4 linked regions of the Homo sapiens genome follow. The protein of the gene in region 2 interacts with the protein of the main gene of each other region in a biochemical or structural test. Each region holds a gene or a part of one and is shown on either strand. Other genes may lie near its edges.

Region 1 (7,459 bases), on a different chromosome or scaffold from region 2:
CATGCCTACCCCATCTGGTCTCCTACAGCTTTTTAATCCCCCAATTACACATGCCCAGCTTGAATCCTGGATCATGGGCCAGGGGAGACCCAGGTTCACCTGCTTCTCACCTTCAGTGTAGCCTGCCATGGCCTGTCAATCACACTGTCAAACTCACCCACACCTGTCTCTTTTCATCCCTGATACCAGGTATCGTGCATGCCCCACAGGTGACAGCCAATTGTCCTACCAATTAGTCCCAGTATGAGGGCTGTCTCAGTCCTAGAAGGCCCTTTTCCAAGCATCCTCAAAGATCACAGAGTGGCCCAGATGCCCTCCTCACCCCACCCTCTGCACTGTCCAAGCAAAGCTACTTCCAAACTCACCACAAAGTCAGGATCTGTGTCCCAATCATCACCCTGGGTCTCCACGGAAACAGACACATCATGGCCCACTACAGACTTCCACATCTGAGAGTGACCGGAGATGGGAATAATTAGGGACAAAAAAGGATCAAGAGGAGGGAAAATAGGAATGCTGAAGTCAAAATATAGCAGCCCAATATTTCCTGCCATTTTTTTTTTCTTAGAAGAAAATAGAAAATGAAGCAAAGCAAATGGGAGTTGTAGGAAGGCTTTTCTGCTCAGTTACAAGATGAGAGATGGGACTTTAATCAAGACGAATTGATGTGGGCTGGGCCCACCTGGGGCTAGAGAGAAGTCATCATGGGTGTGGGTAACACTAGGTAACCCACGAGTCAAAATTGCTGGAATTGTTCACTTGTGTCCCGAGGCCAGCCAGGCAGTGGCTGGAGGTGGTTGGCAATGAGCGGTGCTATAATATCCCTAGAATTATGGCCTTATTTCACTCAGGTTTCTATATATGATTCCTTTGTTGCTGTTGAAATACAAATTGGTTCTGCTTCTCACAAAGTGAACATCTACATCCCTCTTTACAACCTGCTGAACTACACTGAGAATTTTTCCAGCCTCTGGTCCAAGTGCTGTCCCACCTCCACCCTGAGTCTGGTCACCTCACAGCTGTGTAAGGTCAGCAGCGACAGTCGGCTGAAATTTCCACATGGAACAATGCATTGGGAGAGCATTATTTGCTGGGAATAAGTCAGTTATTACTCAATTTTTTAAAAATGGTTCAATTAATTGCTAAAGTCAAAAAATAGCATGTTTTCAAGTTGACAATTTACCGTAGAAAAGAAAAAAGAATAATATGTAATAAATCTGATTTTGAACATTAAGAGGTACTCAGTTTTTATCAACTAAATAAATGTTGCAGAAATATTTAGAGAACCCTAGCTTGGAAGGGTGCCAAACTTATTCTGCTGGGGCATTCCCAGTGTTCTAGACGGCCTTCCGGACTGTGCAGAAGGAAGAGCGGCACAGTTGCTCTGCATCTGTGGATTTGGTGTGAAGAAGTAACAACAGACAATGCTCATCTGCTGTGGTCACCACTGAGACTTCTTGACCCTGGCAGCACTTGCTAGCTGGCAATCCTTCCCTCCTCAGACACCTCATCCCATTGGAGACCTTCCCCATGCTCTCCATCGTCTCCAAAGAGTCCCTTTACAACCACTCCTCGGGTTCTCCTGTCTCCACCTAGGCCTTCAGATTCTCCAGTTTTCTATTTCCACTTGAAAGCTCCATCTTCTCCATTGAGCAACCTCTTAAAAACCAGCCCAGGGGAAGTCTGGGTAAATCAGTTAAAGAGATGCTAAGGGGACACCGGAGAGATATTGACTGAGTCAGCCGGGAGTCATGGCTGAAAGCAGCTTGGCTTTCCCTGATGCGGTTGGAGACAGCAAAACATCCTTACTACCTGCATCCTTACTACCCCTCTGCTTCTCATCCCCTGGCTCCTGGGCTGCTGTGCAACAACAAAAGGACTGTCACACAGAAAACTGGAATGGAGAAGTTTCTGAAATAGTCATGAGCAATAAGGAAGCAATGAGGACTGATGGTCCCATCCTCCTTCCTGTGGCTCCTCTGAGGCCTCAGCCTGACTCTCCCATTCACCCATTTTTGAAATAAAGAGTTTCTGAAATAGAGACAATTTATCTAATATCCTTGACCTATTGACCAGAAACCAGAAAGGTAAGAAGTGCTATCTAGAGGTGAGAACCAGAGAGTAATCTGGTGAGGCCTTGTTGCGATGCTGACCTCCTGCATCAAAGTACACAGACTGGGAGTCAGAAGCCCTGGCTGTCACCCCAGCTCTGTGACTAAGCCTCTGAGGGACCATCACAAGGGCATCAACAGAGTAGGTACTCATTTGCCAGGTATCAGACCAGGCGATTAAGAAATACTAACTTTAATAATTTGGCAAATCAGCAATTATCTCTGATTTTCCCAGTGGAAAATAATGAAGGGGTTAACGTAGCTCATCTGTGGTCTCCTTGATTTCTGACATTCTGAGATTCTGTGATCTACGAACACAGAAACTAGCCCCAGCAGAACAATCATGCCTTCTCTTGGGCTCCATCAGCACTTGGTACTCAGTGCTAGTGTACATCAGTGACTACTTCCTGATCTGTTACATTTCCTGTGTGGGTTTGTTTCCCTGAGACCATATGCTCTTCAAGGGCAGACACTGTTTTCGTCTCCTGTGGTCCTCCTCCCAGCTCAGTACCTAGGGGAGACAGGCCTTAGAGTGGGTTGTAGATTGTCAGCAGAAACCAGGCAACACTTTGCTTGATGTTGGTGCTAGATGGCTCCTGAAACACTTGCCTTGGGTTTAAGCCCCTCCCTTTTGTTTCTATCTCCAGATGCTGATTTGCTACAACCACTCACAACCAGGCCTTCTGGCCATAAAAGGATAAAAGCCTACTAGTGGTGACCTTGCCCATCACCAAGGACTAAGAGCCAGGTAGGTTCCTCCTCAACTCTTACTCTGTGTTTCCCAACTGTCCCATGGCTCAGAGTACCCACCTCCACCTGTGCAAGCCTCTGTTCTAAGCGCCCGGCTCCTCGCGTCCACACCGACTCCCTCTCTGGCTGCTGCCACTTCGGAGTGAGAAACTGAGCTGCTGCTTCAGTTCCGTATTCAGGTTTTCGTCATTTCCTGCCACCCCATCCTCACAGCTACTTCCTGAAATTTGAGTCAGTTCCTTCTGCTTTAGACACTTAAATTTTAAAAGGATTAAATGTTTCTGTGCCTGGTCTTTTGCAAGGTTTTGACAATGGGGGTCATAGAGCAGTCATAGAAAATGCTGCTTTGACTCTGAGTTTGTAATCCAGTGAGAGAAACAAACATTCAACCAGAAAACACATTAGAGAATGCTGTAGAACAGCATTGTGTCCTAAATAGGGTGGCAGTTACATTTGAGACAGTAAAGGAATTCAGAGCATTTGGTATTGGGTGTATTCATCAAGAAAGGCTTTATGGGAAAAGTGATTTATATGTGGGTTTTGAAGCATAAGACTTAAAAAGAAACTCACCCCTATATTACCCACAGCACTTAAAAGTGGAGTTTTCATATAGATGTTCAAATAAACGTCGACCAATTGAATGCCAGAAGAGAATAACTCATGAGGGAAAAGGCAAGACATGGAAGGAGAGTTTCCTAGCTTGTTTGGGGCACTGTGGAGTCTGAGCTAACAAACTAAAGATTTGGCTCTAGAGCGTAGGAAGAATTCTGAAAGAACCAGGTGCTGGTCAGCTGATGGAAGAAGGTCTTTGTGGTATCCTGTTTTACTGCGTGTCAAGACTTGCTGCCCCTCCCTTCCCTCTTGAAGTCAGACTTACTCAGGTGACTTGTTTTGGCCAGTGACAGATACCACTTTCTGGCGGAGGCCGTAAGACCACTGCAAGCTTTGCCATGCTTTCACCACTGCCCAAGGCAACCTGCAATTCTCCATATTGGCTCCTCCAGCAGACTGGGTCCCTGAGTGAGAAAGAACACAAGTGGAGCCCCATCCACCATGTGGGGGAATTGGAGTCTTTCACTAAAAAATAGTCCTTTGTTTTGGCTACTGAGAATTTGAGGGTGTCTGTTATTGTATCTGACCTAGCCTTTCCTAATCTTGATTGTGGACTTCTTGATTTGTTCACAACGGTGCATCCTCCAAGGAGTTTAAGCAGGACTGGATGAAACTGGCCCATGATACAGGCACTTTTCTGCATTAGGAATATGAAGCCTCTGTCACTTCCAAATCTAAGGATTCTATGCCTGGGGGAGCTTTATTTATTCCTTCTACTTTATTACCTATTTATCATGGTGGTACCAAAGTTATGATAAGGAAGAGTACGTTTGTACAAGAGAAAAATCACTTGGAATCCTCATGTAGTGTCAAAATACGATTTAGACTAGATGATGTGACACACCATCCAGGTACATAGTTCTCTAGAGAAAATATAGAAATTAATCAGAGATGACACCAAGAAGTCCCATCTTTCCTTAGCAAATGTCACAAGTTCATTACTGATGAGGTAGTGAGGTGTATCACACAGAAAAAGAATGGGCCTTGAAGCCAGACAGACTTGGTTCAATTAAACCACTTATTGTACTTTGAGAAAGTGAGCTATCTTCTCTCAAGCAGCAACTTAATATAAAAATCCATAATAGCTGGGCACGGTGGCTCACACCTCTAATCCCAGCACTTTGGGAGGCTGAGGCGGGTGGATCACAAGGTCAGGAGTTTGAGACCAGACTGGCCAACACAGTGAAACTCCATCTCTACTAAAAGTGCAAAGATTAGCCGGGCATGGTGGCAGGTGCCTGTAATCCCAGCTATTTGGGAGACTGAGGCAGGAGAATCGCTTGAAACTGGAAGGCGGAAGGTGCAGTGAGTTGAGATTGTGCCACTGCACTCCAGCCTGAGCGAAAGAGTGAAACTCGGTCTCAAAAAAAACCCAACAAAACAAAACAAAACATAATAATGCCTATCTAACCTGCTACATGCTATTAAGCTTCTCTTCTCCCATTCCCACCCAGAGGGATCCCTAGGGGCCTAATGTTTTCACTATGTGCCAGACAAGAGTTCTCCCAGGACCATGCATGGACCTGCATCAATTTCATGCCCTAAGGCCCAGCTTATTTGGTTCAGTATTAGGATAGAATTTCCTCACTGCATTCATCACCTGGGGTCTAGCAGCTAAGGCTGGAAAAATGCATGCAGCTGTCACTGATATTGGCCAGTGAGAAGAAAGCCTGAATATGTAGAGCTTTCTACCCCTATAACCATTCCTGGCTACCTCCTTTCCCTACTTCCCTTACCCACCTTCCACCCCCCAGCATGCAAACACAGGTACCGAAACACCTGTGCACATATCCATTCACTCACACGTACACACACATACACACAAACTCTTCATTCTGAAAATAATTTTATTATTTTACAGTTGTTCAGGAAACTTCCCAGGATGTTGTAACCAAGATTTAATCACCACAGTAGATTTAGAGCAGATCAGTCAGCCCACTTGTCTTCTCTCTTCTTTAGGGAGAGGCTAGGCAGTGAACACATCACGTATGCAATGAGAAAATAACCAACTGGTAGGATGGGGGAGGGGAGGGGAGGCAGGGAATAGGCACAAATGGAATTCTATCCTGGCTGTCCTTCTCAGGTCTATCTATATTTAATTTTGTCTTCTCTATATTCTCCTTCCATTGCCACAGAGGGCAGAGACAATGGGGCTGAGAAACTGTAATAACTGTCACTAACAGCAAAGTAGCTTAGTACTTCAAGAGGTCAGGAGTTGCAGTGTGGTGTTAGACCAGTCAGACTCCTGGCTGAGAGTCAATGCCTAATATTGGCTCCCAGTGGCCCCTGAGCACTGTCTCAGGGTCCACATTCCAGGAATATTCAGATATTCCTGGAATGACAAGAATTGGAACCCTGCTGTCCATAGACACTTCTCCCTGCCCTTTGGTGAAAGGAAAGACTTGGGCCACTTAATACCTTAGTATACATGTGATCAAGGGCAAAAGCAAAGGGATTCTATCCTTATAGTCTAAGACCTGAAATTCTCCCTCCAATTATATCTGAAATTGGCAGGGAAGAAGATGCTGTCCTCCCATGTGATCTAACAGCTAAAACCCCTAGGGAGTTCCTTCAGCTTTCACCACCCTATTCTGCAAGAGACCTAAATCAGATGTCCTATGAGGTGACATGTTCATTTCCCTGAACTCTGTTTATGGCAGAGCCACCTTCCCCCTGAAACAGGAGAAAATACAGGCAAACAAGGCAAAGAAAGTTATCAATCAAAATGATACTGAACTTCAGATTATTAGGTTTATTGAAACCATCCTCTTGGCTTGGCTGAAAGACATTCCTCAGTATCTTTTACAGGACCACAAAAGATCAGGGTCCTGCAAAATCTCAACAAATATTAGGCTCAACAAACCAAATGTGATTCTCAGATTAAGCAGAAGCGTTCAGGCTCAGGGCAGTAGAAGAAAGCAGACTCGCCAGTCCCTGCAGCTCCAACCTGTCCTCGTATCCACCTCTGTTTTTGCAGGCACTTTCCGTGAAGAGTTGGAGAGAAGACCTGTAAATGGGAAGACTGTTCCACTGGAATTGATGTTCTGATGTTAGAGGTGAGAGAATTCCAAGTTTTGAGGGGAGTGGTCCAAAGAGTAACAACTAAGTCTATAGATGGCCCGTAAAACACAGAATGAGCAGGACATGAATCATTAGAAAGTAGATGGCTGCTAGAAGTGGCACTCGGGTCCGTGAATGACAGAGTGAACGCAGGACTCGCTTCCATCCAACGCCACTCCGGGTCTGAAAGAAAAATGTGAAAGTCAGAGAGTTTTCACCCTATAGGGCTATGTTGCTTTCCCTCCTACTAGTCTTGCACTTAAGCAAAGCTGACCCAACCACTGTAGAAAGGGGTATTCTGAGAGGAAAGTTGCCTCAGAGTCAACAACTTGGCAAATTCCACCAGGTTCTAATCTTCCACGCCCTTCCAGCCTTAGACTCATTCGCTGCTCAGTGGCTGGACTTCCACATTCCTTCTCCTCAGCTCCTTGCCCCCAGTATAGCCAGCCCTGTCAGATAATAAAACACCCTCTCTTTATCCTTCTTCCTCTTACCCTTCGACAACTGTTGCTTGTAAGATCTATTAACAGTGCCTGCTCCTGAGTGCCACAGGAGCCAATGATAGGAGTCCGGGAAGAGTCCCATTCACTGTGCTCTAACCTGAGTTGAGAAAAAAAAGAGGCATAGCATTGGTTCATAGCATGAGAGGCTGATCAGGCCCAGTCTTCCCAGTCATCCTGCCACACAATGCAGCACAGGAGGAGACTTGCAGCAAAAGCTGCTCCCATAAACCCAAACCCATGCAAGGGGGGTACCAGCAGATACGTTTCCTTCAGCAGCAGCAAAATGTGACAATAACTATCAGGAATTGACTGCCTACTCACTATGTATCAGGCTCTAGGCTGGGTGCTTTACATACATTTAATCCTCAGGTTCTGAGGTTGGTCTTATTATCTTCAAAGTGCTAAGGCTTACAGAGGTTAAAT
Region 2 (7,390 bases):
CACTCTCCACTATTCAAAGCCTCTGAGTTTATGACACAAGTTAGAAAGAAGGGCACTTAGTATGTGCAAACGATCTGTCTTCCCTGTGCCAGGTGAAGTCCTAAGATGGTGTTTTTGGAAGGACAAAAGGAGAAAATGGGAAAGCCTTCACAGATCTAAATGATTTGTATGATATAAGTGTAAAATGGAGGATCTCGGATGCCTTTTTATAAAAATTACAGATGACTTTAAAGCCTCAGCACTCCCACCAAGGATGACTACTTTGCAGAATCAGATTCAAGTTTAAAACCGCTTGAAGAAATCCTGCTGTCAGGAAGACTGAAACTGCCAAAACTCAGATTCAGTAGCATTTATTCATTTGATATTTGCACCATAACAATTTACTGAACACCAACTGTGTGCAGAGTACTATACTAGACCCTGAGTGTATCAAGCAGTGGAAGAGACAAACCCTATCTCTATTCAGGGCTTATACCGATGCTCACTGGTATTCAAAAGTGGCTCAACAAGGCAGATGCCAGACCGTGTCCAATACATATCAGGTAGCTTGATTTCATTATTGTAATGCAAAGAAGCTCTACAGGCAACATGTGAAGGTAAGAACAAAACATGCAGAGAAAGAATATTATATAAATCTAAGAATTCTCCCATCTTTGTTTAGGCCCAAACACCAGTGCTTCTTATCTTTGGGGCAGAGCTTAAAGATCTAATAGTAGGCACCAGAAGCAATGTAATATATCATTCATCAAAATAAAGACTGCTTTGTAGGGGGATGAAGCAGTAGGAGATTGTGTTAAACGAGGTTTGAAAACAAAACAGTAAAGAAGCATTATAATTGCCTATATCAGATGCCAGTCTCTTCAAATGGCAAGAGGCAAGGCCTTTATTCAGGATAGCAAAAGCAAATCTGATTTAACTAGGTACAATGTCTAATGTCTCTTACTTTGAACAGGTTTTATTGCCATACTCCAATAAACTGTTCATCCATTCACTAAAATAATTTTCACTTTCAAAAACCTTCTTTTGCAAAAAGGCAAAGCAAAACCAAAGTCCAAGCATCGGGCTGTGATAGAGATGATTTAAGCTTTATATTTCATTTTTAGAGATTATGTAACCACAGCACGCACATTCACAGTGGCTGAGCCCATTTTGATACAGTCTGGTCTAACCACCTTGCCTGGCCCTCTTTCAGCTATCTTGCAGGTTTACATCGTTTCAGTGACTCCGTATGTCACCTCTACCATTTCTTTTCTAATTATTATTTGCTGAATAATCCTAAACCAGGTCTACTTTTTCTAGATAGGGCATAAAAGTAAAAATACAATGGATGGGCATTCACTGTGTTATGCCAGGCCCCGCATTTGGGGCAAGACACTAAGGATACCAAGATAAACCAAGTCCGTCCCTCCTGGAGTTTGCTTGCAAATCTAGCAGGGAAGATAGTAAACAAGCAACTGCAAAGGATATGACACATCTCTCTTAGGGAATGCTGGCTGCAGAAAGAACACAGCATAGGAAGATTTAACCTTAAACTGTTTAATGAAAACAGAAATTTAAGTAGCAGCTCTTCTAATCAAATGTGATGGCGGGAGAAAGGGAGTGCAGAGGTGTTGCAGGCAGACACTAGGTATGAAGGTCAGCATTGCCGTGCAGAAATCGAACCGGTGCTAAAGATAAGGAGGGGTGGGGGCACTCAGGACCCAACACACGCAGGGGTTTGTTAGCCATATTAAGTGCTGGGTTTAACCTAAGGGCAAAGGACGAGCTTTCTAGACTTTCATTTCATAAAGATCCCTCTGCCTGTGCTGTAAAAAGTGGACTGCAAAGGAGCAGGCGGGTCTGGAAGTGGAGAGACCAGGGAAGAGGCTGCTGTGGTCAGACGGCTGAAATCAGAGATAGAGAGACGCGGACAGATCTGGCAGACATTTACAAGGTCGACAAGGCTTGGCGACTAAGCAGGAAAAGAAGTGGGTGGGCGAGAGGGGGCTGCGAACGATGTTTTCCGGTTTCCTGCTTGGGTGCCACTTACTGAGAATGGGGGAAGAGGCAGGTGCAGGGCACACCCACCGAAAACCAGAGCGCCGAGTGTGAGCAGGGCTCGCTAACTCCTCACGGCCTGGGATTTCAAGGCGACGCCAACCAGCTGTGGCCACGGATACACAGCCACAGGTATGAGCTGCGAGCACTCACGAAACTCTGCAGGGCCGAAAAGGAATTGGAGTTTAAACCCTGCAACTATCTCTCTGGAAGAGCTAAACCACATTGTCAACCCGGGATAATCCAGGCCCCAGGCATGGAAGGCAGCAGAGACGGAAGCCTCGTCCAAAATTGGAAGGATCAGCCCCCAGGGCGAGTATCTCACAGTCAGCACCCGGCCGCCCCAGCCCTCGCAGCACCGCTTCCCGGGGCCACTCCTCCGCCGGCGGTAGCGCCGTCCGTTTCCCAGCTTGCCGCTGCCTTCCGCCGCCTGACCCGGCCTTCCGGCACTCGGCCGGCCGCCAGGTCTCCCGCCCTCGGAGCTCGGTGCCCCGTGCCCGACCTCCCGGCCCCGGGCTCGGTTCCCCTGGCCAGGCCTCCCGCTGCCTGGCCTCCCCGGCCCGGCCTCGCGCTGCCCGGCCTCCCCGGTCCCAGCCCAGCCTCCCGCCCCCGGGCCAGGTCTCCCCTCCGATGACCTGAGGCCTTTCCTTAGGTTACCCCCAGGTCCCTCTCCCTAAATCAAAAGCCTTAACCCGCTGCCTGGCTTCCCCGGCCCCGGCCCAGGCTCCCGCCTCCGGGCCAAGTCTCTCGCTCCGCGGGCTTCACTGCTCGCCCCCGCCCGGGCGAGGTGGCAAAACAAACACTCCGCCTTCCAGACCGGGCAGGTACCCGGGCGGGCGCAGGGCCTGGGAGAACGCAGGGAGCGGGGGCAGGGCTGACGGCCCGGAGCGAGGGCGGCAGTCACCGCACAGCCTCCTCATACCTTCTACAACCGCCTCACAATAGCACCCATCCGCTAGGAGCCGCGTCTGCACTGCTTCCGCGGCCCGCCGCCGGGAGATGTGCTCCAGCGCCAGCCCCGCCTCCCGCCCGCCCCTGTCGGCCCCTCGCGCCGCCTCCGCTGCGGCCCGTCCCCTAGCTCCCGCCCGCCCGAGAACCCAGCCCCAGGCTGGGCCCCAGGAGGCGCCCGCCCACCGCAGCGCGCCCCGCCCCCGCGCCCCGCGTCCTCACGCCCTGGTCCCGCCCTCGCGTCCCGCGCCAGTCCTCCCGCTTTGGTCCCGCCCTGAGGCTCGGCCCGGCTCCCCCGCCCCGGATTTGAAATCTAGGTCTTCCTGAGAGTCCGCGGGCTTCCGCTCCCAGCGCGGGATTCTGGAGGGAAATTGAGGGAGACTTGGAAACCGCGCCAGGCCCAACGGGTACCTAGAAGGGAGACAAAGCCAGGCCTGCTGCCCAGTTTGAGCTCTGGGAAGAAGAGGAGCAGGCCGGGACGCCCACCGGTAATTTCTGTCTCCTCTGCGATGACCTGAGGCCTTTCTTTGGGTTACCCTCAGGTCTCTCTCCCTAAATCAAAAGCCTTAACCTCCTGTCATCAGGGTGCCAGGCTAGAAATAACCAGGTCCACGCATGCTGTGTTTTCCACCATGTCAGGCTGCTGTGGACGCTCTTTCGATCACAAAAGCCACGAGCTGCGTGGAGTTCCCAAGGAGGCAGTTCTCAGCACTTGCTGGTCACTGGGTAGTCAGAGCCTGACACACAGGCTCAAGCCGCTCACGCATCATAGTAGTGTACTTAATCCACATATAAATGTTACAAGTTAAGCATCCCACAACAAAGTAGCATTTAACATCATGAGGAAAAAGAGATGGGGCAAAGAGATTAACGAACCAATCCAGAGGGAGTGAAGAAGAGGAAAAGAAGCCTGGTTTGGGCCGAGAGGTCCTTCTGCAAAGACGGCGTCAATTAAGCCGGCTGTTGGGAGCTGCCGAAGGCCCCATCTTTTATAGTCACAGAGTCCTGTGGTGAGAACTGGTAATGGAAGAGAGTGCTTGTTTGTGTCCTTACCTGGCTGGATGCGGACTATTTTTTTATTTGTTTATTAAAGTATAGTATGCTTGTTGGCAAATGCCTTATGAAATGTAAAAATGGGGTCTTCTCCTAAGATGGAGTTATTAATGGTTACGTCAATGGTGTGCTATATACACTGCCCTACCGATCCCCTTCCTATTTTGGGTCGTGAACTCATTTCAGACCCTGAAGCAAACTGTGAATCATTTTCGCAGAAGAATTCACCAACACATGTGAGCACGACATTCTGCATCAGATTTCAAAAAGTTCTTGACATTCAGAAGTCAGATTCAGGGACCCCATGGCAGAGCCTGTTTCTAACACTTGCGCCTATTCGACTATAGGGACTATATTCTGCACAGAAATATACTTAGTTTTATATATGGTTACCCCTTGCTGAGTTTATTGCATGCTTTTACATTTTCATAATACATTTGTTTGTTTCAGCCTTTCAACAATCCCTCGGGATAGGAATTCCAATTTAAAGAGGATAAGGTTTAAAGAGGTTAAGGCCGAGTTTAAAGAGGTTAAGTCCCGGCGCGGTGGCTCATGCCTGTAATCCCAGGACTTTGGGAGGCCGAGGCAGGTGGATCACGAGGTCAGGAGTTCGAGACCAGCCTGGTCAAGATGGTGAAACCCTGTCTTTACTAAAAATACAAAAAAAATTAGCCGGGTGCAGTGGTGGGCACCTGTAATCCCAGCTACTTGAGAGGCTGAGGCAGGAGAATCGCTTGAACCCGGGAGGCAGAGGTTGCAGTGAGCTGAGATTGCGCCACTGCACTCTAGCCTGGGCAACAGAGCAAGACTCTGTCTCAAAAAAAAGAAAAAAAAGGGGTTAAGTAGTTTGCTGTTGCTAAAAAGACAGTCACAGGAGTTAAACTCAGATCCCACAAATAAGACTTAGGCCTTTCTTTATCCCTCCTGAATTGAGTGAACACCAATGTTTGACAGTCCTTTTTCTGCCTCAATAAAACTGAGAAATAGGACCCACTCCCAACCTTAACAGTGGCTCTGCAGAGCAGTAATTTGCAAAGAGGGGACTAGTGTGGTTGAACTAGTCCTTATCCTATTGTGATGCCCAAACCCCTTCCTGTGCTAAACTTTCTTGCCAAATTAGCAAGCATTAGCAGCAGTTTTCTGGTTTCCTGTAAATCATACTAATTTACTTAGTCTGTGAACTTTTTTTTTTGAGACGGAGTTTCACCCTTGTTGCCCAGGCTGGAGTGCAGTGGTGCAATCTCGGCTCACTGCAACCTCCGCCTCCCGGGTTCACATGATTCTCCTGCCTCAGCCTCCCAAGTGGCTGGGATTACAGGTGCCTACCACTAGGCCCAGCTAATTTTTGTATTTTTAGTAGAGATGGGGTTTCACCATGTTGGCCAGGCTGGTCTCGAACTCCTGACTTCAGGTGATCCACCCACCTCGGCCTCCCAAGTGCTGGGATTACAGGCGTGAGCCACCGTGCCCAGCCAAACATTTTAATTATAGCCAAACAGTAGGCTGGAGGCAGTGTCTTCTGGCTGAAGCCAGTAATTTCTCTTTACAGAGGTATCCCAGAGGTGACAGAACTTGATCTGGGCCTGGAAGGGGAAGAATTCGGGAAAAGCAACGTGGGGCATTCCAGGTAAGAGAAATGTGTGCTGGGTGCGGGGGGAGGTTTCTGGAGTGGCTCAGGAGAAAGCAGAGGTCATTATCAATTCATTTGGTGAGATGGTGGAAGAGTAAGAAATGAAATAGGTAAATGATTTAGGGCCAGATTCTGGAGGGGAGTTTAGACTTCGTGACGTTAGTTTACCTGTGTGAGTTGAATGTTGCTATGAATCATTATCCCTGTGAAAAGTGATGAAAATGGTTTTAAGGGTGATTGGGCTGGCAGAGTTATGCTGTTTGGATGGGAGATCCTGTGGGGAGGATAGAAAGGAGGAACTGGAAAAAAAAAAAGCACAATATATCGCTGTGTGTTTTCTTACTCCTTAAAGAGGATTTGGGGAAATTTAAATATGAGTTACTTCTGCTCAAGCATAGAAAGGCAAAGTGACTGAAGTGGGAGAAAAAAGGAAAATCCAGTCACTTATACTTAATTTCTTAAGGTGTTATTCATCCAGAAAGTGAACTTATATAATAATATTTTTGTAAATGCTTTTTGATCACATACTTTATAATAAATACTTTAGCAGTGGGAGAAATAGTACGAATGCATTCCAAGAGGCTAGAAAAGGGATTATATTAAGAAAATATTGTCAAATACCAGGATATTACCAAATCATAGAACTAGAGTATTGGCAGAAAATGCAAAATACTGATGAATCTAATCTCAGGGTAGAGGGAGAATTTGGAGTTGGGGAATAGGAATTGACCAGTGATGAGAAAAAAAGAAAAAAGAAAAGGAGGGAGGAAGGAAGGAAAGAAGGGAAAGAAGGGAGGGAGGGAGGAAGGAGGGAAGGGAGAAAGGAAGGAAGGAAGAAGGGAAGGAAGGAAGGAAAGAAGGGAAAGAAGAGGGAGGGAGGAAGGAAGGAAGGAAGAAGGGAAGGAAGGAAGGAAAGAAGGGAAAGAAGAGGGAGGGAGGAAGGAAGGAAGGAAGAAGGGAAGGAAGGAAGGAAAGAAGGGAAGGAAGGAGGGAAAGAAGAAGGAAGGAAGGAAGGTAGGTAGGTGAGAAAGAAAGAAACTGAGAGAACTAGGCTAGGAAGAACCATGGCCAGGCTGGCTTCAGGTCCCCCCAGAAACTGGTAAATAGGAAGCATGTGCCCCCTCCTTCAGCTGCTCCTGGAATCCAGACCATCAAGTGTCACAGCTGGGCAAGGCTGGGCATAAACGCAGGGAAGCTGGGGCTACTTAGGTCTGCGTCATCTCTCCCCTTCCATCCCTGCTGCCTCTTCTCCCACTATAGTTACTCGAAAAGAACTAACATAGCCTTTTTTCTAGCTTGACCCCCTTTGGTTGAAAGATCAGTATCAACCATGCTTAAATAATCAAACATGGTTAAACAAACATTCTGTGCAATGTTAAGAATTAAATAATAGAAACTCTTTGAGCCCAATCTTTTATTTTGTTTTTTAGTAGAGATGGGGTTTCACCATGTTGGCCAGGCTGGTCTCGAACTCCTGACCTTGTGGTCCACCCGCCTGGGCCTCCCAAAGTGCTGGGATTACAGGTGCAAGCCACTGCACCGGGCGGAGCCCAATCTTTTAAAATACAATAAAAGTTTTCCTTCGGAACTTGGAAACTTACCAAAAATAGTTACAGTCCCTGAGTGGAAAGGAGCTTTGATACACAATTATGTAAAAGAAAGACAACACTCTTTCACCACCGGGAATGAAAAGCATTTCTAATATGGTGACATATTCCCCCA
Region 3 (6,973 bases), on a different chromosome or scaffold from region 2:
ACCCAGCTAATTTTTGTATTTTTAGTAAATATGAGGTTTCACCATGTTGGCCAGGCTGGTCTTGACTCCTGACCTCAGATGATCTACCTGCCTCAGCCTCCCAAAGTGCTGGGATTACAGGTGTGAATCACTGCTCATGGCCACCCAGGCAGGTTTTGAACTCCTGGCCTCAAGACATCCTCCCACCTTGGCCTCCCAAAATGTTGGCATTACAGGCATGAGCCACCATGCTTGGCCTAAAACATAAGTAATTTTAAAAATGATTTTATTTGCTGGGCGCAGTGGCTCACGTCTGTAATCCCAGCACTTTGGGAGGCCGAGGCAGGCAGATCACCTGAGGTCAGGAGTTCAAGACCAGCCTGGTGAACATGGTGAAACCCCGTCTCTACTAAAAAGAGATCGTGCCACTGCATTCCAGCCTGGGCGACAGAGACTCCATCTAAAAAAAAAAAAAATTTATTTTTTCAAAGACAGGGTCTCCCTACGTTGCCCAGGCTGGACTTGAACTCTTGGGCTTAAGCAATCCTCCCACCTCAGCCTCTCAAGTAGCTGGGACTACAGGTGGCTACTAGTAATGTTTATATTAAGCTGGGTCATAATATCTCTTTTAAGGTTTATGGCCAATTTTTTTTTTTTTTTGAGACAGAGTCTCGTCACCCAGGCTGGAGTGCAGTGGGGAGATCTCGGCTCACTGCCACCTCCACCTCACAGGTTCTGCCACAGCCTCCCAAGTAGCTGGGATTACAAGCACCCACCACCAAGCCTGGCTAATTTTTGTATTTTTAGTAGAGACAGGGTTTCACCGTCTTGGCCAGGCTGGTCTTGAACTCCTGACCTCATGATCCACCCATCTCAGCCTCCCAAAGTGCTGGGATTACAGGCGTGAGCCACGCGTGCCCCGTCTTTTTTTTTTTTTTTTTTTTTTTTTGAGATGGAGTTTCGCTCTTGTCACCCAGGCTGGAGTGCAATGGCATGATCTCGGCTCACTGCAACCTCTGCCGCCCAGGTTCAAGCAATTCTGCCTCCGCCTCCCAAGTAGCTGGGATTACAGGCGCCTGCCACCACGCCCAGCTAATTTTTGTATTTTTAGTAGAGATGGGGTTTTGCCATGTTGGCCAGGCTGGTCTTGAGCTCCTGACCTCAGGTGATCCACCTGCCTTGGCCTCCCAAAGTGCTGGGATTACAGGCATGAGACACCGCGCCCGGCCCAATTTTTATTCCCTATACCCAGGAGACTTTTCTTTTTTTGAGACAGAGTTTTGCTCTTGTCGCCCAGGCTGTAGTGCAATGGCATGATCTCGGCTCACTGCAACCTCCACCTCCTGGGTTCAAGCAATTCTCCTGCCTCAGCCTCCCTGGTAGCTGGGATTCCAGGCATGCGCCACCACGCCCGGCTAATTTTGTGTTTTTTAGTAGAGATGGGGTTTCTCCATGTTGGTCAGGCTGGTCTCGAACTCCCAACCTCAGGTGATTCGCCCGCCTCGGCCTCCCAAAATGCTGGGATTACAGGCGTGAGCCACCGCGCCCGGCCTCCAGGAGACATTTTTACCATTTTGCACCCTTTCCCTTTGACTTCCTAATACAAAATTAACAACTTCTAAGTTGTTATCTTATTAGAAAGCCCCCTTATAAAATAGGATTGTTCTCACCTTCAATTAACAATTTTTTTAATTGCTCAAATCAGTCTATAAAGTTCTCTTTTGCAATTTGTGACTCTGGACATATATTTAAATTCAGTCGTTACAGGAGGATCAATTGGACCCAGAAGTCAAGACTGCAGTGACCTGTGATACCACTACTGCACTCCAGCCTGAGTTAAAGTGAGACCCTGTCTCAAAAACATAAAAAAAAAAAAAAATTTAGCCTGACATTCAGTGCCACCATTATTTGGTTGTGACCTATTTTTTCTTTTCTTTTTTTTTTTTTTTTTTTTTTTTTTACACAGAGTCTCACTGTCACCAAGCTGGAGTACAGTGGTACAATCTAGACTCGCTGCAACCTGCGTCTTCCGGGTTCAAGAGATTCTCCCACCTAAGACTCCTGAGTACCTGGGATTATAGGCACACCACGCCCAGCTAATTTTTGTATTTTTAGTAGAGATGGGGTTTTGCCATGTTGGCCAGTCTGGTCTTGAACTCCTGACCTCGTGATCCGCCCGCCTCGGCCTCCCAAAGTATTGGGATTACAGGCGTCAGCTACTGCTCCTGGCCAAATATTTTGTATTTTTAGTAGGGACGGGGGTTTCACCATGTTAGCCAAGCTGGTCTTGAACTCCTGATCTCCAGTAATCCACTGGCCTCGGCCTCCCAAAGTGTTGGGATTACAGGCGTGAACCAGTGCGCCAAGTTAACTTCCTTTTTTTTTTTTTTTTTTTTTTGAGACCCAGACTCACTCTGTCGCCCAGGCTGAAGTGCAGTGGCGCGATCTCGGCTCACTGCAACCTCCGCCTCCCGGGTTCAAGCGATTCTCCTGTCTCGCTCTCCCGAGTAGCTGGGACTAGAGGCGTGTGCCACCACACCCGGCTGATTTTTTTTTATTTTTAGTAGAGACGGGGTTTCACCATGTTAGCCAGGATGGGCTCAATCTCCTGACCTCGTGATCTGCCCGCCTCTGCCTCCCGAAGTGCTGGGATTACAGGCGTGAGCCACCGCGCCCGGCCCCTTCCCTTTTTTTTTTTTTTTTTGACACAGGGTCTCACTCTGTCGCCCAAGTTGGAGTGCTCACTGCAACCTCCGCCTCCCGGGTTCGGGGTTCGAGCTATCCTCCCGCCTCATACTAGCTAGTATTTGGCATTACAGGCAAGTGCCACCACGCCCTGCTAATTAGTATTTTTAGTAGAGATGGGGTTTCACCATGTTGGGTGGGCTGGTCCTGAACTCCTGACCTCAGGTGATCCGCCCACCGAACTTCCCAAAGTACTGGGATTATAGGCGTGAGCCACGGGCGCCCCGCCCAATTTCCCTTTTTAATGGCATTTGAGCTAGGGTCCAGGTTTCGTAGCTCCCACTACCTGTCCTGCACAACACAGACACTAAATACCTTAGTGCTTATTATGAAGCCCCGTTCTTCAGAAAGGTTTTATAGCACTTTCGTTAAACCTCCTTCCTGTTCAAAATGCAGCGCACTAGAGTATTTTTCCCCAATCCACCGTTAAGCGGCTTCTTCTTAAGCAGGACTGTTTTGGGTCTCTTGGTTGCTACCCCTACTACACCCTACTAATATGTTGCACAAAGCGACGGGGAACCCCTTCTCCCCCAAACGATGTGCGTGGAAACACACAATGTCCTACTCTCTCCATTCCCAGAAACCTAGACTCTCCCCTCAAATACCTTTCCTGGCTCATCTACAGCACTAAGGTCTCAAGGTAGGGGCAAAAGCCCGCCCCAATTGGCAAATGCTCCTCCTCCGCCAAGAACCTCGAATTTCCGCTGTCCCTGGACAGAGCCTCCAACCTTCAGAAAAATGGCGAGGTGGACCCAGGCCCTTGATTCTGAAGTGAGCCCTTTTCCACAGCACAGGCTTTTTACAGGTTTTTGTGGTGGAATGATGACTCAGTGAGCTGATTTACTCCCTCAAGAGTAACCAACGCGCCATTTCAGTTCTCCAGGATCCCGACTCCGTGTCCCTCCGCCTCAGCCTTGCCTCCCACTGTCAACGCAACCGTTTCTCAGAGAAATCGCCGAAGGCGCATGGCAGGGCAGTTGGGCCACTAACGGTTTTCTAACGCGAGAAGACAGAGCGGGAGGAGAGGCGGGAACGCGTAGGGACTAGCAGGGGGCGGAGTGGGGGTGGGGTGGCGGACGAAGGGCGGGGCCGGCGCCAGGAAGGATCGCGAAGGAGCTGGGAGGCCCCGCCCTTTCCGTAGATATCTCTAGAAAGCCGCGCCGGAGCCCAAAAACAAGGACTGCGCACGCGCGGCGGCAAGGCCCGGGCATTTTGCTGCGTCACCAGCCGCCGCCCGGCCTCACCACCCCTCGTTTGCACGCACGCACGTTCATTCTCCGTCCTCGCGCCCCTTTTCCTACACTTTCCTCTTCTCCCCGACCGGAGGAGCCGCTCTTTCCGCGCGGTGCATTCTGGGGCCCGAGGTCGAGCCCGCCGCTGCCGCCGTCGCCTGAGGGAAGCGAGAAGAGGCCGCGACCGGAGAGAAAAAGCGGAGTCGCCACCGGAGAGAAGTCGACTCCCTAGCAGCAGCCGCCGCCAGAGAGGCCCGCCCACCAGTTCGCCCGTCCCCCTGCCCCGTTCACAATGTGAGTGCGACACCCCGCCGAGGGAAGGTCGCCGAGTGAGGCCGAGGCCGCGTTGGGGGCTCCCTGGAAGCGGCCCCCTAGCCTTTCTCGCATCGGTGGTGGCAGTCGTTCCTGCCTGGGGGCGGGAGGTCCAGGATCCTTGTTCCGGTTACCGTTGGCGGGTGGAGGACATTTTTCCTCCAGATGTCTGCTTCCCCCACCCCTGAACCGTTCCTTGGCTTCCCCATGCCGGAAATCCTACTTTTACCCCTTTGGCTGTCTGGGTTACTCGCCTCTTTCGGTAACTTCACCCTAGGCCTTAAGCTCCCGGTAGCTGCTCGCCATGCGGCGCCCTGAAGCGTGAACCTTCGTGGGTCGCCTCTCGGCTGCTTGGGCGCTCCGGTTCTGTTGCTTTGTGGTCCCGGGGCCAGGCCCTGAGTCGAGTGCACCTGTGGTGGGTGCCGCCAGGTGCCTGGCGGAGCTCCTGGGAGAGCCCCACGCGGACCTCGCCGTGAGCTGCAGGTACTGCTAGGCAACTAGAAGGAAGCCATGCCCACGCCGCAACATACTTCCCTCTCCAGTGTCTGGGTTTCTTGAGTGTGGGTACTTCCAGTCCGCCTCCTAACTCCAGTCTCTTGAAAACACGGGAGGTTGCCAAAACTCAGCCGCTTCCCTGGCAGCGAGGAGGAGTTACCATTGAGCAGGTAGTTCCGCACGTGTCGACTTTGGAAAGATACGGACATTTTCTGTGTTTCATGTTCTACTTGAGGTGAGGTTTCACTATCTTGTTACAGTGTAGGATGAAATAGGTATGTAGTAGGCATTTAATTAACCTACAGTCGTCCCAAAGATCTTAAATTTGTGTGGAGGTGAATACAGATTCTATGGCAGTCTTCATTTTACGATGATAAAGGAAAGCCTTGGCGATTTTAACCGGTAAGAATTCTTGGCACTGCCGCGTACAGTGGGAACTGCCGGTTTTACAGGGTTTTTTTTTTTTTTTTTTTTTTTTTGACGGGAGGTTATTTTTCAAGGTACTAACTACGTCCTAAAAGGTATGGAGAACAATTAAGGTGGAACCTTTTTTTTCTTTTGTTTTAGACTCCATTCAGAAGAGAGAAGAGGGGAGTGACTTTATGTCTTTGGAAAAGTAATAAGGATTTGCTTGATTCAAGTCATGATACTGAGGCTGAGTATATTGGCTAGAAATCTAAAGGGATGCGTGAGGCTGAAGCGAGTTTATCACTGGGAACAAGCTTCTAGAGCACAGCATGTTAGAATTTTTGAAGGAGCCCCCTCCCCGAAAGTGATACGTAATCGGGGTTTTAAAAAATTTGAATTAGGCTGGGCGCGGTGGCTCACAACTGTGATCCCAGCACTCTGAGAGGCCGAGGCGGGCGGATCACCTGAGGTCGGGAGTTCGAGACCAGACTGACCAACATGGAGAAACCGCGTCGCTGCAAAAATACAAAAAAAATTAGCCGGGCGTGGTGGCACATGCCTGTAATCCCAGCTACTCGGGAGGCTGAGGTTAGGAGAATCGCTTGAATCTGGGAGGTGGAGGTTGCGGTGAGCCGAGATCATGCCATTGCACTCCAGCCTGGGCAACAAGAGTGAAAACCCGTCTCAAAATAAATAAATAAATTTGAATGTATATAAAATAGTTTTTGCTTTTCTATTTGAAAGCTCTCCTAAGTAATGTAGAAGGGACATCAGTCTTAACCTTTCATACTCTGAAAATCTGTAAGGGGAAATTTTTTGTCAGATGAGGCATTAAGCAGCTTTTAATAATAGAGCCAAACAACATATCTTTTCGCGAAAAGTATGTTTAAAATTGGCTTGAAGTAGAAGCATTTGATGGAGGCCACATGAGATATTTAAATAGGTAAGGAACGGCTATTACTAGGAAAGTAGATTTAAAAACTTGGGTGAAAAGTAAGTGTAAGGCCAGGCGCGGTGGCTCACGCCTGTAATCCCTATACTTGGGAGGCCGAGGCAGGCGGAACACGAGGTCAGGAGTTAGAGACCAGCCTGGCCAATATGGTGAAACCCCGTTTCTACTAAAAATACAAAAACTAGCTGGGTGTGGTGGTGCATGCCTGTAGTCCCAGCTACTCCGGAGGCTGAGGCAGGAGAATCGCTTGAACCCAGGAGGTGAAGGTTTCAGTGAGCAGAGATTGCGCCGTTGTACTCCAGCCTGGGCAATAGAGGGAGACTCCGTCTCAAAAAAAAAAAAAAAAAAAAAAAAGTAAGTGTAGCAGTAGAGAGACTATTCCAAAAAGTAGCCTCTCTAGTTAAAAAATAAAAATGCTACTTTCATGCCGGGCGGGGTGGCTCACTCCTGTAATCCCAGCACTTTGGGAGGCCGAGGCGGGTGGATCACGAGGTCAGGAGATCGAGACCATCCTGGCTAACACGGTGAAACCCCGTCTCTACTAAAAATACAAAAAATTAGCCGGGTGTGGTGGCGGGCGCCTGTGGTCCCAGCTACTTGGGAGGCTAAGGCAAGAGAATGGCTTGAACCCGGAAGGCGGAGCTTGCAGTGAGCGGCGATTGCGCCACTGTACTCCAGCCTGGGCGACACAGCGAGACTGTCTTAAAAAAAAAAAAAAAAAAAAAGAAAAGAAAAAATGCTACCTTCAAAACGAGTGATTCAATGCCACTTGAAGAGTGTTGGGCTGGGGGAAACAAGTGTTTTGAAGAGACCAGCTAAAATATTCTTTTAAAAATAATATATGCCGTTT
Region 4 (7,022 bases), on a different chromosome or scaffold from region 2:
TAAAGACCTTTTTATGCAGGTTAAAATATAGACTATTTTTCTTTAAGAGAGAAATGTACGAACAGTACCCTTGATTATACCCCTGCAAATAGGGCATTTTCTTAGAGAAGGGGCACATTCCTGGCATACTACCAGATGACCACAAGGAATAAATACAACAGAAACTTCTTTGTCCATACACACTTTACAAGTTCGTTCTTCTTGCAACCTCCTCAATTGTTCTTCCAGTGACAGACCTAATAACAAAAAATAACTTTAGTGAAATTGTTTCCACTTCATTAAAAAAAAAGGGTAATAGTTCATGTTGGTTTTAAATCTTTGTTTTACCTGAAACATCTTCTGTTGGAATATACTTCATATTCTTATCCACTGAGGAAAGAAAACATAAAAACCATTACTCTACTAAATACAAAACTGAGCCACCGCATCTGGCCAGTCCTAAGAATTTCTAAAATAATTTTCCCAACAAACTCACCAAATAAGTTCTTATACAATGTAGAGTCAATTTCTTTTAGACAGTTTTTGAAGATGTTGGCCGCAGCATTTCCTTTAACCAAAATGGTATCAATCAGTTCTCTCGCTTGTAAAGGTATCTGTGTTTTTTGTTTAATAATATCATGTTCCTGTTTATTAATTACATTGGCCTTTAAAAGATTATCCAGGATAGGAAGCACACATGTCAATTGTTGAAAGAGAGCCATTCTGTTCTTCCGAATTAATGACAAATCATCTTCATTAAAAAAAGAAAAAGAAATCCATTAGATTTTAAACTCCTTTAACTATACTCATATAGTCACTAATAACCAACCCTACAAACAATTTAGGCACTAAATAAAGTTCAAAAAAGAACAAAGTAACTTGTTTGCATTTGTAAGTTTGTTGTTTGGAAAACTTCCAGAGGAAGTCTCTGTTTAATTTTTAAGTCTATATATTTACATGTCCTAGAACTCCGCTTTTACTTTATTTTGTTGCAAGAGATTTGTAGAAGACAGTAAAAATTTCCCCCCACCATATATAATAATACTCTTGTATTTCCATTATATCATTTTACTTTTGTAAGCACTTTCATAGTAATTTGTCTCATTTGATACAGTGATCCTGTCAATTAAACAAGGCGAGTATTACTGCCTCTCATTTTTACATAGGGAGAAAAAAGACTCAGAAAAGAATGAGTGGCCTAAGATCACAAGAAAGAATAAGCTGCAGAACCAGGCATCCTAGACCAGTGTTCTTTTCAACACCCCATACTTAAGACGTGGTATTGTAGTATTGTAGGGTTTGAGTTGCCAAGTCAAAACAGACCTAGGTTCCAGTGTTGGCTAGGCCCACTCACTAGCTATGTGTCCTCATCCTTCCCCATACACCTCAGTTTCCTCATCTGTAAAATATACATAACGGTACCTTCCTCAAAGTTGTAAGGATTGAATAATACATGTAAAGCATCTGGCACAATATGTGGTACATAGTTAACTACCATTATTATTTTATAAATGTCTATGTTTATAGCAATTAAAAAAAACTACCTAAGAATCAAGCCTGACCTTTTTTTAAAAAGCCAATGTTTTTCCTTTAATATCGCATCACATAAAACTCCACAGTTAATTTATATTTATGGAATATGGTAGTTCCTTCTTTTGGTATCTGAATCATTATAAAATTTGTCTATTTTCAGACTTTCAAAAAAATTTAAAAAGTACATCTCTACAAAGTACCAGTTTAATGAGAAATAAATTATAAAAACAGAAGCCTATCTTCTTTCCCCTTTTACATCTCTCTAGAAGTGAACTGCTCTATTAATCTCAAAACTATAAAATTCCATTCTGTGACAACTTTTTCTTCTACCTAAATAATTCCTCTCACTGCTAACCAATTTGTTCTTCACCTTTTCAAGATCTCCATGTCATTCCCAATTCTACTTGCACAAGAGCTATCTCCTGGCTTTGCTTCAAACCTCCTATTCTAATCTAGGTAGCAGTCAGGTATTTCAATGAAGTTCTCTATATTAGCACCCTTAACTCATCTTCCGTATTCCTTACTTGCCCTTTCCCCTATTAACACTGCCAAATCTGTAATTCAATACTATTTTCCAACCCATACAAAGTATGAGAAAGTCATAAATCTAAGGTGACAGTGATTTCATATAACCTTAGCTGGATTTCATTACTACTTAACAATCCTTAAATTGACTTTTCTTAGGCCCTTTCTTTCACCAAGTCCCTCCCACTTCCCAAGTCAATCTACCTAATGCTTAAAAAAAAAAAAAAATTGACGTGCTAGGAGCTGTGTTAAAGTGTTTTATTTGCAATATCTCATTTAATTCCTACAGCAACCCTATGGGAGTCATACTATTATTATCCCCATTTTACAGATGAGAAAGCCGATGTCTGGTTGAATAAATAGCCAAGCTAGTAACTGATAGAACTGGAATTTTTTTTTTTTTTTTTTTGAGATGGAGTCTGGCTCTGTCACCCAGGCTGGAGTGCAGGGGCACGATCTCGGCTCACTGCAAGCTCTGCCTCCCGGGTTCACGCCATTCTCCTGCCTCAGCCTCCCGAATAGCTGGGACTACAGGCATCCGCCACCATGCCCGGCTAATTTTTTGTATTTTTAGTCAAGACGGGGTTTCATCGTGTTAGCCAGGATGGTCTCAATTTCCTGACCTTGTGATCCGCCCGTCTTGGCCTCCCAAAGTGCTGGGATTACAGGCATGAGCCACCGCGCCCAGCCTGGAGCTAGAATTTAAACACAAATCTGTTTCAATGTAGAAGTCCAGACTTTAAATATTTTGCTACACGGTCATGCAATAAGGTACTCTTAAGTTATTCCTGTCTTTACTTACAAGCTTAAAAAGAAAGCATCTTCCAACGCAATACTCCAATACATATGCAACCTTCGCCTCTCTGCTGGCCCTTTAACCCTGTCTTTTGCACACTAGTCTCGCCAGCTAGTGTATATACTCCTTGACAGCAACCACTGTGATTAGGCACAGTATTTGGCACTGGTGCTCATGCTCAACAAATATTTATTGAAGGAGGGGAGGAGCCAAGATGGCCGAATAGGAACAGCTCCGGTGTACAGCTCCCAGCGTGAGCGACGCACAAGACGGGTGATTTCTGCATTTCCATCTGAGGTACCGGGTTCATCTCACTAGGGAGTGCCAGACAGTGGGCGCAGGCCAGTGGGTGCGCGCACCGTGTGCAAACCGAAGCAGGGCAAGGCATTGCCACACTTGGGAAGCCCAAGGGGTCAAGGAGTTCCCTTTCCGAGTCAAAGAAAGGGGTAACGGACGCACCTGGAAAATCGGGTCACTCCCACCCGAATATTGCGCTTTTCAGACTGGCTTAAAAAACGGCGAACCAAGAGATTATATCCCACACCTGGCTCGGAGGGTCCTACGCCCACGGAGTCTCGCTGATTGCTAGCACAGCAGTCTGAGATCAAACTGCAAGGCAGCAGCGAGGCTGGGGGAGGGGCGCCCGCCATTGCCCAGGCTTGATTAGGTAAACAAAGCAGCCAGGAACTCGAACTGGGTGGAGCCCACCACAGCTCAAGGAGGCCTGCCTGCCTCTGTAGGCTCCACCTCTGGGGGCAGGGCACAGACAAACAAAAAGACAGCAGTAACCTCTGCAGACTTAAGTGTCCCTGTCTGACAGCTTTGAAGAGAGCAGTGGTTCTCCCAGCACGCAGCTGGAGATCTGAGAACCGGCAGACTGCCTCCTCAAGTGGGTCCCTGACCCCTGACCCCCGAGCAGCCTAACTGGGAGGCACCCCCCAGCAGGGGCACACTGACACCTCACACGGCAGGGTATTCCAACAGACCTGCAGCTGAGGGTCCTGTCTGTTAGAAGGAAAACTAACAAACAGAAAGGACATCCACACCGAAAACCCATCTGTACATCACCATCATCAAAGACCAAAAATAGATAAAACCACAAAGATGGGGGAAAAACAGAACAGAAAAGCTGGAAACTCTAAAACGCAGAGCGCCTCTCCTCTTCCAAAGGAACGCAGTTCCTCACCAGCAACGGAACAAAGCTGGATGGAGAATGACTTTGATGAGCTGAGAGAAGAAGGCTTCAGACGATCAAATTACTCTGAGCTACAGGAGGACATTCAAACCAAAGGCAAAGAAGTTGAAAACTTTGAAAAAAATTTAGAAGAATGTATAACTAGAATAACCAATACAGAGAAGTGCTTAAAGGAGCTGATGGAGCTGAAAACCAAGGCTCGAGAACTACGTGAAGAATGCAGAAGCCTCAGGAGCCGATGCGATCAACTGGAAGAAAGGGTATCAGCAATGGAAGATGAAATGAATGAAATGAAGCGAGAAGGGAAGTTTAGAGAAAAAAGAATAAAAAGAAATGAGCAAAGCCTCCAAGAAATATGGGATTATGTGAAAAGACCAAATCTACGTCTGATTGGTGTACCTGAAAGTGATGGGGAGATTGGAACCAAGTTGGAAAACACTCTGCAGGATATTATCCAGGAGAACTTCCCCAATCTAGCAAGGCAGGCCAACGTTCAGATTCAGGAAATATAGAGAACGCCACAAAGATACTCCTCGAGAAGAGCAACTCCAAGACACATAATTGTCAGATTCACCAAAGTTGAAATGAAGGAAAAAATGTTAAGGGCAGCCAGAGAGAAAGGTCGGGTTACCCTCAAAGGGAAGCCCATCAGACTAACAACGGATCTCTCGGCAGAAACCCTACAAGCCAGAAGAGAGTGGGGGCCAATATTCAACATTCTTAAAGAAAAGAATTTTCAACCCAGAATTTCATATCCAGCCAAACTAAGCTTCATAAGTGAAGGAGAAATAAAATACTTCACAGACAAGCAAATGGTGAGAGATTTTGTCACCACCAGGCCTGCCCTAAAAGAGCTCCGGAAGGAAGCACTAAACATGGAAAGGAACAACCGGTACCAGCAGCTGCAAAATCATGCCAAAATGTAAAGACCATTGAGACTAGGAAGAAACTGCATCAACTAACGAGCAAAATCACCAGCTAACATCATAATGACAGGATCAAATTCACACATGACAATATTAACTTTAAATGTAAATGGACTAAATGCTCCAATTAAAAGACACAGACTGGCAAATTGGATAAAGAGTCAAGACCCATCAGTGTGCTGTATTCAGGAAACCCATCTCACGTGCAGAGACACACATAGGCTCAAAATAAAAGGATGGAGGAAGATCTACCAAGCAAATGGAAAACAAAAAGAGGCAGGGGTTGCAATCCTAGTCTCTGATAAAACGGACTTTAAACCAACAAAGATCAAAAGAGACAAAGAAGGCCATTACATAATGGTAAAGGGATCAATTCAACAAGAAGAGCTAACTATCCTAAATATATATGCACCCAATACAGGAGCACCCAGATTCATAAAGCAAGTCCTGAGTGACCTACAAAGAGACTTAGACTCCCACACATTAATAATGGGAGACTTTAACACCCCACTGTCAACATTAGACAGATCAACGAGACAGAAAGTCAACAAGGATACCCAGGAATTGAACTCAGCTCTGCACCAAGTGGACCTAATAGACATCTACAGAACTCTCCACCCCAAATCAACAGAATATACATTTTTTTCAGCACCACACCACACCTATTCCAAAATTGACCACATAGTTGGAAGTAAAGCTCTCCTCAGCAAATGTAAAAGAACAGAAATTATAACAAACTATCTCTCAGACCACAGTGCAATCAAACTAGAACTCAGGATTAAGAAACACTCAAAATCACTCAACTACATGGACACTGAACAACCTGCTCCTGAATGACTACTGGGTACATAACGAAATGAAGGCAGAAATAAAGATGTTCTTTGAAACCAATGAGAACAAACACACAACATACCAGAATCTCTGGGACACATTCAAAGCAGTGTGTAGAGGGAAATTTATAGCATTAAATGCCCTCAAGAGAAAGCAGGAAAGATCTAAAATTGACACCCTAATATCACAATTAAAAGAACTAGAGAAGCAAGAGCAAACACATTCAAAAGCTAGCAGAAGGCAGGAAATAACTAAGATCAGAGCAGAACTGAAGGAAATAGAGACACAAAAAAACCCTTCAAAAAATCAATGAATCCGGGAGCTGGTTTTTTGAAAAGATCAACAAAATAGATAGACCGCTAGCAAGACTAATAAAGAAGAAAAGAGAGAAGAATCAAATAGACGCAATAAAAAATGATAAAGGGGATATCACCACTGATCCCACAGAAATACAAACTACCATCAGAGAATACTACAAACACCTCTACACAAATAAACTAGAAAATCTAGAAGAAATGGATAAATTCCTCAACACATACACTCTCCCAAGACTAAACCAGGAAGAAGCTGAATCTCTGAATAGACCAATAACAGGATCTGAAATTGTGGCAATAATCAATAGCTTACCAACCAAAAAGAGTCCAGGACCAGATGGATTCACAGCGGAATTCTACCAGAGGTACAAGGAGGAACTGGTACCATTCCTTCTGAAACTATTCCAATCAATAGAAAAAGAGGGAATCCTCCCTAACTCATTTTATGAGGCCAGCATCATTCTGATACCAAAGCCGGGCAGAGACACAACAAAAAAAGAGAATTTTAGACCAATATCCTTGATGAACATTGATGCAAAAATCCTCAATAAAATACTGGCAAAACGAATCCAGCAGCATATCAAAAAGCTTATCCACCATGATCAAGTGGGCTTCATCCCTGGGATGCAAGGCTGGTTCAATATACGCAAATCAATAAATGTAATCCAGCATATAAACAGAGCCAAAGACAAAAACCACATGATTATCTCAATAGATGCAGAAAAAGCCTTTGACAAAATTCAACAACCCTTCATGCTAAAAACTCTCAATAAATTAGGTATTGATGGGACCTATTTCAAAATAATAAGAGCTATCTATGACAAACCCACAGCCAATATCATACTGAATGGGCAAAAACTGGAAGCATTCCCTTTGAAAACGGGCACAAGACAGGGATGCCCTCTCTCACCACTCCTATTCAA

Evidence for each region.
Region 1: of the proteins of CASP3 (region 2) and HCLS1, one has a biochemical effect on the other in vitro, tested with the Homo sapiens proteins (2 studies listed by BioGRID).
Region 3: of the proteins of CASP3 (region 2) and PTGES3, one has a biochemical effect on the other in vitro, tested with the Homo sapiens proteins (2 studies listed by BioGRID and IntAct).
Region 4: the proteins of CASP3 (region 2) and BIRC2 form a complex in vitro, tested with the Homo sapiens proteins (3 studies listed by BioGRID, with this or other methods).

Annotation. Positions count from the first base shown.
Region 1 is NC_000003.12:121,657,899-121,665,357, forward strand, and holds the start of HCLS1 (hematopoietic lineage cell-specific protein), read right to left. Parts: upstream 3,006-7,459; 5' UTR 2,922-3,005; intron 450-2,921; coding exon 366-449; intron 1-365. Other genes in the region: GOLGB1 (golgin subfamily B member 1), read right to left, coding at 6,582-6,716, 7,028-7,133. UniProt on the Homo sapiens protein: Substrate of the antigen receptor-coupled tyrosine kinase. Plays a role in antigen receptor signaling for both clonal expansion and deletion in lymphoid cells. May also be involved in the regulation of gene expression.
Region 2 is NC_000004.12:184,646,436-184,653,825, forward strand, and holds the start of CASP3 (caspase-3 isoform a preproprotein), read right to left. Parts: upstream 3,013-7,390; 5' UTR 2,960-3,012; exon of another isoform or gene 2,673-2,959; intron 2,197-2,672; 5' UTR 2,030-2,196; intron 1-2,029. UniProt on the Homo sapiens protein: Thiol protease that acts as a major effector caspase involved in the execution phase of apoptosis. Following cleavage and activation by initiator caspases (CASP8, CASP9 and/or CASP10), mediates execution of apoptosis by catalyzing cleavage of many proteins.
Region 3 is NC_000012.12:56,685,275-56,692,247, reverse strand, and holds the start of PTGES3 (prostaglandin E synthase 3), read left to right. Parts: upstream 1-3,963; 5' UTR 3,964-4,248; coding exon 4,249-4,250; exon of another isoform or gene 4,251-4,984; coding exon of another isoform or gene 4,985-4,998; intron 4,999-5,330; exon of another isoform or gene 5,331-5,365; coding exon of another isoform or gene 5,366-5,379; intron 5,380-6,973. UniProt on the Homo sapiens protein: Cytosolic prostaglandin synthase that catalyzes the oxidoreduction of prostaglandin endoperoxide H2 (PGH2) to prostaglandin E2 (PGE2).
Region 4 is NC_000011.10:102,371,204-102,378,225, reverse strand, and holds part of BIRC2 (baculoviral IAP repeat-containing protein 2), read right to left. Parts: intron 731-7,022; coding exon 476-730; intron 370-475; coding exon 328-369; intron 237-327; coding exon 43-236; 3' UTR 1-42. UniProt on the Homo sapiens protein: Multi-functional protein which regulates not only caspases and apoptosis, but also modulates inflammatory signaling and immunity, mitogenic kinase signaling, and cell proliferation, as well as cell invasion and metastasis.